Homo sapiens: one gene and its partner. The protein of the gene in region 1 purifies or fractionates together with the protein of each later gene. This does not show direct contact. Each region holds a gene or a part of one and is shown in the gene's direction. Other genes may lie near its edges.

What was found.
Region 2: the proteins of GALR3 (region 1) and TMED8 purify together in Homo sapiens (affinity purification with mass spectrometry; one large-scale study listed by BioGRID and IntAct). This does not show direct contact.

Annotation. Positions count from the first base shown.
Region 1 is NC_000022.11:37,821,831-37,826,024, forward strand, and holds GALR3 (galanin receptor type 3), read left to right. Parts: upstream 1-1,551; 5' UTR 1,552-1,576; coding exon 1,577-1,935; intron 1,936-2,892; coding exon 2,893-3,640; 3' UTR 3,641-3,655; downstream 3,656-4,194. UniProt on the Homo sapiens protein: Receptor for the hormone galanin. Receptor for the hormone spexin-1.
Region 2 is NC_000014.9:77,342,414-77,346,221, reverse strand, and holds part of TMED8 (protein TMED8), read left to right. Parts: intron 1-2,383; coding exon of another isoform or gene 2,384-2,398; coding exon 2,399-2,525; intron 2,526-2,738; coding exon 2,739-3,044; intron 3,045-3,808.

The DNA of each region.
Region 1 (4,194 bases):
TAGCTGGGATTACAGGCGCCCGCCACGACGCTCAGTTAATTTTTGTATTTTTAGTAGAGACAAGGTTTCGCCACATTGGCCAGGCTGGTCTCGAATTCCTGGCCTCAAGTGATCTGCCTGCCTCAGCCTCCCAAAGTGCTGGGATTACAGACGTGAGCCACCATGCCCGGCCTAGGAACCTTTTCTAAACATGGATTGGAGCAAGAAGGTGCAGGGATAGGGGATGGAGTCACATCAGGCTGGGCCACAGGAGGTGGGAGTGCCAGAGACTGGCTGGGCCCTGGGCACAGAGGGGTTAACTACAAAGCAAATCACAGAGAGCGAGATCAATGGGTTACTGGCTGCAGAGAGAGGAAAAGGCAGCAGCAACGCAGAGAGGCAGAGAAGAGCCAGGCAGAAGAGCCTGCCACCTGGGGGAAATCAGGGACTGAGGAGGAAGTGGCCAGTGGCTACTCCAGAGGGAGTGCCCAACTCCGGCTCAGCAGAGGGGGCAGAGGAGAGGAGGGGCCTTAAAGGCAAAGGGGGAGAAGTAGAAGGCAGACCAGTACCTGCAGGGAGGCACCAAGGGGCAGCCGCTGAATCAGGAGGCCCACCCAGCCCGGCCATTCCACCCAGGATCAAGCCCACTGCCCAAGGCGGAGGTGGGTGTTGCCCATCCTGGGCTTTGGGGACCTACTGCATGCTGGGTGCTGGGATGGGGGCAGACATTGCCTTTCTTCCCTACTCCCTGCCTGACCCCCCTTTCCCCTACTTTGTCCCACCACCCCAGTGGTCTCAAGCCTGCAAGGAGATCCACAGGCAGTAGGAGACATGGGCTGTAGAGTGGGATGGGGGTGAGCATGGGTGCGGTGTGCACACACACAAGTTGTCAGAGGCACCACCTGTTACAAGCTCTCAGATGAGCACTCTAGCTTAAGAGGCAGGATACCAGGGTGGCAACAGCCCCAGAGCTGCCATTTCGAGTGTGATATTATCCTCCCATGTCCCCTCTCTGGGCCTCAATTTCCCTATGTGCAGAGAGGAAGCAGTGACCTACACGGTCTTCCCAGTTTTGCCATTGTGATGATCTCACTATACTGGACCCTCCAATGACTCAGGGATGTTACCCGTGTTTTGCTAAGGCTACAGCTTGTAGCCAGAGAAAGCCCTAAACCCATGTCCCAGGGTCTCCCCTGAGCTTCAGATCCCCATTGAGAAGGAAAACATACCAGTTTCTGGGTTTGGCCCCTCCCCCCATCGCCATATCTTCATCCTACTTCGCTTGTGCCTTCCCCAGCCTCGTGGGTTGAAAGTGTCCCTCAAATACCTAGGTAGTCCTCCAGGCAGGACTCCAGGGGTGTTCCTTAGGAAACTGAGGAACTCTCACCCCTTGAACACCACGAGCTTGCTCACACAGTGACACTCAGCGATGACTTTGGCTCTGCTCTCCCCTCCTCCATCTCCCACGAGCTTCCAGCCCAGAACACCTGGCCAGACCCAGGTCGGGGGAGTTAGATCCCGGGGTCAAGCAACCAGAACTGGGGGCTCTTGCCTGAGGATTCCAGCTTCTCTTCCCAGGTGCCCGTCTGATGGGGAGATGGCTGATGCCCAGAACATTTCACTGGACAGCCCAGGGAGTGTGGGGGCCGTGGCAGTGCCTGTGGTCTTTGCCCTAATCTTCCTGCTGGGCACAGTGGGCAATGGGCTGGTGCTGGCAGTGCTCCTGCAGCCTGGCCCGAGTGCCTGGCAGGAGCCTGGCAGCACCACGGACCTGTTCATCCTCAACCTGGCGGTGGCTGACCTCTGCTTCATCCTGTGCTGCGTGCCCTTCCAGGCCACCATCTACACGCTGGATGCCTGGCTCTTTGGGGCCCTCGTCTGCAAGGCCGTGCACCTGCTCATCTACCTCACCATGTACGCCAGCAGCTTTACGCTGGCTGCTGTCTCCGTGGACAGGTGCGCTGTGCCTGGGGCCTGGCTGGGCAGGGCTGTGGGGGCGGGGGTTGGGGGAGGAGTCCTGAACAGATCCTCACTGGCCTTAGGAAGGAGAGAGTGGGGGACCAGAAAGGGAGGTGGGTGGGAGGAAACAAAAGCTCCCTGACCCCTCGCAAGCAGCCTCTGGGCACCTGCAGGGCGTGCTTGAGGGGACTGTCCTGCCCTTCCCCTCCTCCACTGTGAACTTCCAGAGGACGCCTCTGAGTCTCAAGTGGCAGCACAGGGTCTGGCACATAGTAAGTGCTCTGTAAGCGCGAAATGAATCGCAAAAGAAGCTCACGAATGCGTTCATCAGTTTTTTTGTTTTGTTTTGTTTTGTTGTTTTTTTTTTTTGGATCTTGGCTCACTGCAACCTCTGCCTCCTGGGTTCCAGCGATTCTCCTGCCACAGCCTCCTGAGTAGCTGGGATTACAGGCCACCACACCTGGCTAATTTTTTGTATTTTTAGTAGAAACGGGGTTTTGCCATGTTGGACAGGCTGGTCTCGAACCCCTGACCTCAAGTGATCCGCCCGCCTCGGCCTCCCAAGTGCTGGGATTACAGGCGTGAGCCACCGCGCCCAGCCCAGCTATTTTCTAACTGCCCACACCTGGCCAAGCTGTGCACACATCTGCTTCCACAGCTTGAAACTTGGGGTCAAATCCAGGCTCACTCCAGCTGATGACCCTGGGCAAGTCACTTCTCTCTGGACCTCATCTGACGCATCCATAAAATAATCCTAGAAATAACAAGTCACCGGGATCGGGCCCTTGCTAGGTGCAAGGGCCTAAGCACCTTGCGCGTTCACACCCTTAATCCCCGCCACGTCCCCCACGGTTCACAGGAGGCGCACTGGGCCGCAGGGCCCGGGCGCGGGACGTGGCGCGGGCCCCTGCGGGAGGGCACCTGCCCGCCCCGCTGACCAGGCGCCCTCCGCAGGTACCTGGCCGTGCGGCACCCGCTGCGCTCGCGCGCCCTGCGCACGCCGCGTAACGCCCGCGCCGCAGTGGGGCTGGTGTGGCTGCTGGCGGCGCTCTTCTCGGCGCCCTACCTCAGCTACTACGGCACCGTGCGCTACGGCGCGCTGGAGCTCTGCGTGCCCGCCTGGGAGGACGCGCGCCGCCGCGCCCTGGACGTGGCCACCTTCGCTGCCGGCTACCTGCTGCCCGTGGCTGTGGTGAGCCTGGCCTACGGGCGCACGCTGCGCTTCCTGTGGGCCGCCGTGGGTCCCGCGGGCGCGGCGGCGGCCGAGGCGCGGCGGAGGGCGACGGGCCGCGCGGGGCGCGCCATGCTGGCGGTGGCCGCGCTCTACGCGCTCTGCTGGGGTCCGCACCACGCGCTCATCCTGTGCTTCTGGTACGGCCGCTTCGCCTTCAGCCCGGCCACCTACGCCTGCCGCCTGGCCTCACACTGCCTGGCCTACGCCAACTCCTGCCTCAACCCGCTCGTCTACGCGCTCGCCTCGCGCCACTTCCGCGCGCGCTTCCGCCGCCTGTGGCCGTGCGGCCGCCGACGCCGCCACCGTGCCCGCCGCGCCTTGCGTCGCGTCCGCCCCGCGTCCTCGGGCCCACCCGGCTGCCCCGGAGACGCCCGGCCTAGCGGGAGGCTGCTGGCTGGTGGCGGCCAGGGCCCGGAGCCCAGGGAGGGACCCGTCCACGGCGGAGAGGCTGCCCGAGGACCGGAATAAACCCTGCCGCCTGGACTCCGCCTGTGTCCGTCTGTCTCACTCCCGTTCTCCGAAGGCGGGACGCCACCGGGCCAGGGATGGGGCAATGCCACGAGCTCTCTGAGGGGCGTTGAGTGGAGCGACTTGTCCCCGCTCCACAGCGGAGCACCAGCCCAGTGGACACCCCTGGGTGTGAATATGAACAGCACAGCCCGCCCCCAGCAGGGCAGCCCCCAGAGCCTGCCCAGAGCCAGCCTGGCAGTCCCTCTGCCCATTCTTCCAACTGGGTGACACCTAGGCCCTGCTTCCTCCACCACCTCTTAACTATCTCCTTCTTGGTTCCAAGCTCAGTCCTAGGTAATTTAACATCAACAGCTAATAAATGGCTAATATTTAAGTGGGACCAGGCGCTTGGCTCATGCCTGTAATCTCAGCGTTTTGGGAGGTCGAGGCGGGAGGATCGCTTGAGGCAGCAGTTCAAGGCTGCAGTGAGCCATGATCACGCTACTGCATTCCAGCCTAGACAGCAAAGCAAGACCTTGTCTCTAAAAACATTTATTAAGCAGGTACCATAT
Region 2 (3,808 bases), on another chromosome or scaffold:
GGGCATCTTGGTCTTCATTATTTTTTGGAGAATGATTATTTGTATCTTCCACAGGGCCCATCATTGTACTGGCACCCAGTAGGCACCGATTCAGAAAACGAAGTGTTAGAGTGAATGTTCATGTGTTCTCTAAAATCCTCTTCATTGAGGAGCCTGAAGTCATTGGACTATTTTGCTCTTACTTTTCTTGTGGTAGATCTATTTAGTATTTATGATAAAGATTCCACAGAAGCTTTTTTTTTTTTTTTTTTTTGAGACAGGGTCTCCCTCTGTCGCCCAGGCTGGAGTGCAGTGGCACGATCTTGGCTCACTGCAACCTCCACCTCCTGGGTTCAAGTGATTGTCCCACCTCGCCTCCCGAGTAGCTGGGATTACAGGCACATGCCACCACACCCGGCTAATTTTTGTATTTTTAGTAGAGGCAGGGCTTCACCATATTGGTCAGGCTAATCTCGAACTCCTGACCTCAGGTGATCCACCCGCCTTGACCTCCCAAAGTGCTATGATTACAGATGTGAGCCACTGTGCCTGGCCTTGATTTTTTTTTTTTTTTTTTTTTTTTGAGACAAAGGTCTCACTCTGTCACCCGGCTTCAGTGCGATGGTGCAGTCATGGCTCACTGCAGCCTCAAAATCCTGGGCTCGAGTGATCCTCCTGCCTCAGCCTTCCAAGTAGCTGTATGGAAGTGATGGTGTAGTGGTGCCCCTGCCATGGAGGGATGGGGGCGGGATGGGGTTGTTTCTATCATTTATTAGCATATGTGTTAGAATAATGGTTGGTATTAGTGTCAATGAAGACACCACCAGGCGTTATAATTAGATTTGTATAATACTTTACAGTTTACAAGCATTTGTATCTGTAACACTTCATTTACTCCTGAGAACAACCTTGTCAGATAGGTGCCATTGTGTCTCCATTTAAGAAATGAGGAAACTGGCTGGGCCCGGTGGCTCATGCCTGTAATCCCAGCACTTTGGGAGGCCGAGGCAGGCAGATCACTTGAGGTCAGGGGTTCGAGACCAGCCTGACCAACATGGAAAAACCCCATCTCTACTAAAAATACAAAATTAGCTGGGCGTGTTGGCAGGTGTCTGTAATCCCAGCTACTCGGGAGGCTGAGGCAGGAGAATTGCTTGAACCTGGGAGGTGGAGGTTGCAGTGAGCTGAGATCGTGCCATTGCACTCCAGCCTGGGCAACAAGAGCAAAACTCTGTCTCAAAAGGAATGAAAGAAAGAAATGAGGAAACTGAGGCTGAGGGCTGTTAGAGACTTTACTAAGGCTATGTAGCTAATATGTTGCAACCTAATCCTTTATTTAGCATTTTAGAAAAGGAAGGATTTATTTAAGCACGCTAGCCAAAGTCTGATTCATTTCAGTTAGCAAAGGAGATGAGAACTGGAGGGCTTATTCTCCAGAAACAGATATTATGAGAATACAGCCTGGGAGGATTACAAACTTGATTTATTTATTTCTCACAAATACAATTCCAGCCTCTTAACTGGATTGCTGACTCACTGATGTGCTCTCCCCTGTGGGCAATAGGTATAGTTTTCTTGTTGAGTTGCCTGCCAACTGTTTGGAGAAGGGGCAGAAATTAAGGTATAATAGCATGAAACCAGGAACACTAATCTGAGTGATTTGAAGGGAAACTCACCAGGGAGACATTGTAAGCTCCCGCATGGGTTAGTGAGGGCTTTGAGTATCAAATGCCATTTGCATTCTTCCATGTAAGTCAGACGTCTGGCAGCAAATGTACTGTTTAAATGCAAGTCCTGGGGCTGGTCTAAGGTGAAATTGTAACTATTGATAGAACACTGTTAGTGACTTCAAGACTGAGACAATCTGTAGCCCGAGGTGGGCTGTGGATGAGAGAGAAAGACTATAAACCAGATTCTGTCTCTGCAGTGCTTTGGAGAGCTGATTGACAGTAATGTAGAAGTAACCCTTGAGTGGGAATTGTAGCAGGAGGATGTGTGGCAGAGTGGGAGTCAAACTAAACCCTAGGAGCAAGAGCTATTAATGAGAGGAGCCACAGGGAGGTACTGTGCAGGTGAGGTAAGACCAAGGCATGGCCCAGAATCACAGTCAATGCAAATACTGTTAACAACCTGCGAGGGTGTTGGCGGACAAGGACCTTATAAAGGGTTTGGAGCAGGAAAGTTGCAAAAGGTAGGAAACAGTCTTTAAACAATGGAATATTTTGATGGCTTTAAAAAATTAGTAGAATTTATTAGCAACTTCTATTTGGAAGAAAGAGAAGGAACATTGACTAGTACATTAAGCTTTGAGTGGGGATAGTGGAGATAATAGAGCAGGGGTGGGGCAGCCTTCATGCAAAAAGAGATTAATTAGAATCTGCCACTCGAATACTCCTTTAACCAGAGTTCTGTTGTGCAGATGGCTAAGTATCAAGTTCCACAGAGGTCTGGGGACATCGTTATGATCCAGTCTGAACATACAGGAGCTATAGATGTTCTTTCAGCTGATTTGGAATCTGCAGATCTTCTGGGGGACCACAGGAAAGGTGAGACCTTTGGGAGTAAAGGAGGTGGTTTGTTTCCAGTAGATACTCAAAGAAAGGCAGGCAGACAGACAAATGGAAGGAAAGAAAATGACTTGTGAAAGGAAGTCAAGCCAGTAGAAAGAATGTCTGACTGTGCCAGCCTCTCTTAGCAAAATGCCCGGGGTACTCATGTTTCCTCATGGTTTCTCAGTGCTAAGCTGCTTGTCCTTTCAGTCTCCCCACCTCTGATGGCTCCTCCATGCATCTGGACCTTTGCCAAGGTGAAGGAATTCAAAAGCAAGCTGGGCAAAGAGAAGAACAGCCGTCTGGTGGTGAAGCGTGGTGAGGTGGTGACCATCCGGGTACCTACTCATCCAGAGGGGAAGCGTGTCTGCTGGGAGTTTGCGACCGATGACTATGACATTGGCTTTGGAGTTTATTTTGACTGGACCCCTGTAACTAGCACTGACATAACTGTGCAGGTCAGTGATTCCAGTGACGATGAGGATGAAGAAGAGGAAGAGGAGGAAGAGATTGAAGGTAAATTTAATTTTAACCTAATTTGCAGTTTTCTGGCTTAATCTGATTTCTGGTGACCATTTTGTGGGTTGTACCAGTCCTCCTCTTCCTTTGAATGCAGTTGAGAAACTCAGCATTACAAGCTAAGCTGAGTGGTACAGGCCAAAGAGAACATTCTGGTGGGGTTGATACTGCTGCCTTAATTGAAAGAAAGCCTCTTTTTCCTTATCGGTACCTCATTGTTTTCCCAACACCTTCCTGGGGGCAGGGATGGGGCAGGAGCAGAGAGAGGGTGAGTCATGCGGCAGTTTAGAGGGATGGTCATTCAGGTCGCATGTAAGCCAGAGATTATTTTACATCTCTCTCTTAGTTTGTAGATATTTATTCTTGGCCTGGAACCAAAGTGAGTGATTACAGTTTGCTAAAGGTATCCATTCTCTCCTTATCCCAAACTCTCATAGCTGGCTATTGGTTACTTCTTTACTTCATGCCCAGACAAGTTTTAAAAGGGTCTCCGGGCTCCATTCCGGCTGTTATTTGTAGTGTCTACACACTACACAAAGGATGGCCCAGAGGCATTTTTCAGATAACGTAAGAGTAGGTCCTAAGCATTAGTCTTATTCCTCTTATTCCTTGATTTTCTTATATAATCTTAAAGTCAGTCCTTTAACGTGCTTCTTCATAGAACAGCAAGCGGGCAGGGAAACCTACAGGTATCTGGGAAAGCGGAGAACCTTGTATCTTATTTGCTGCTTTTCAGGAATCCTAGGGTCACTTTATAGCAC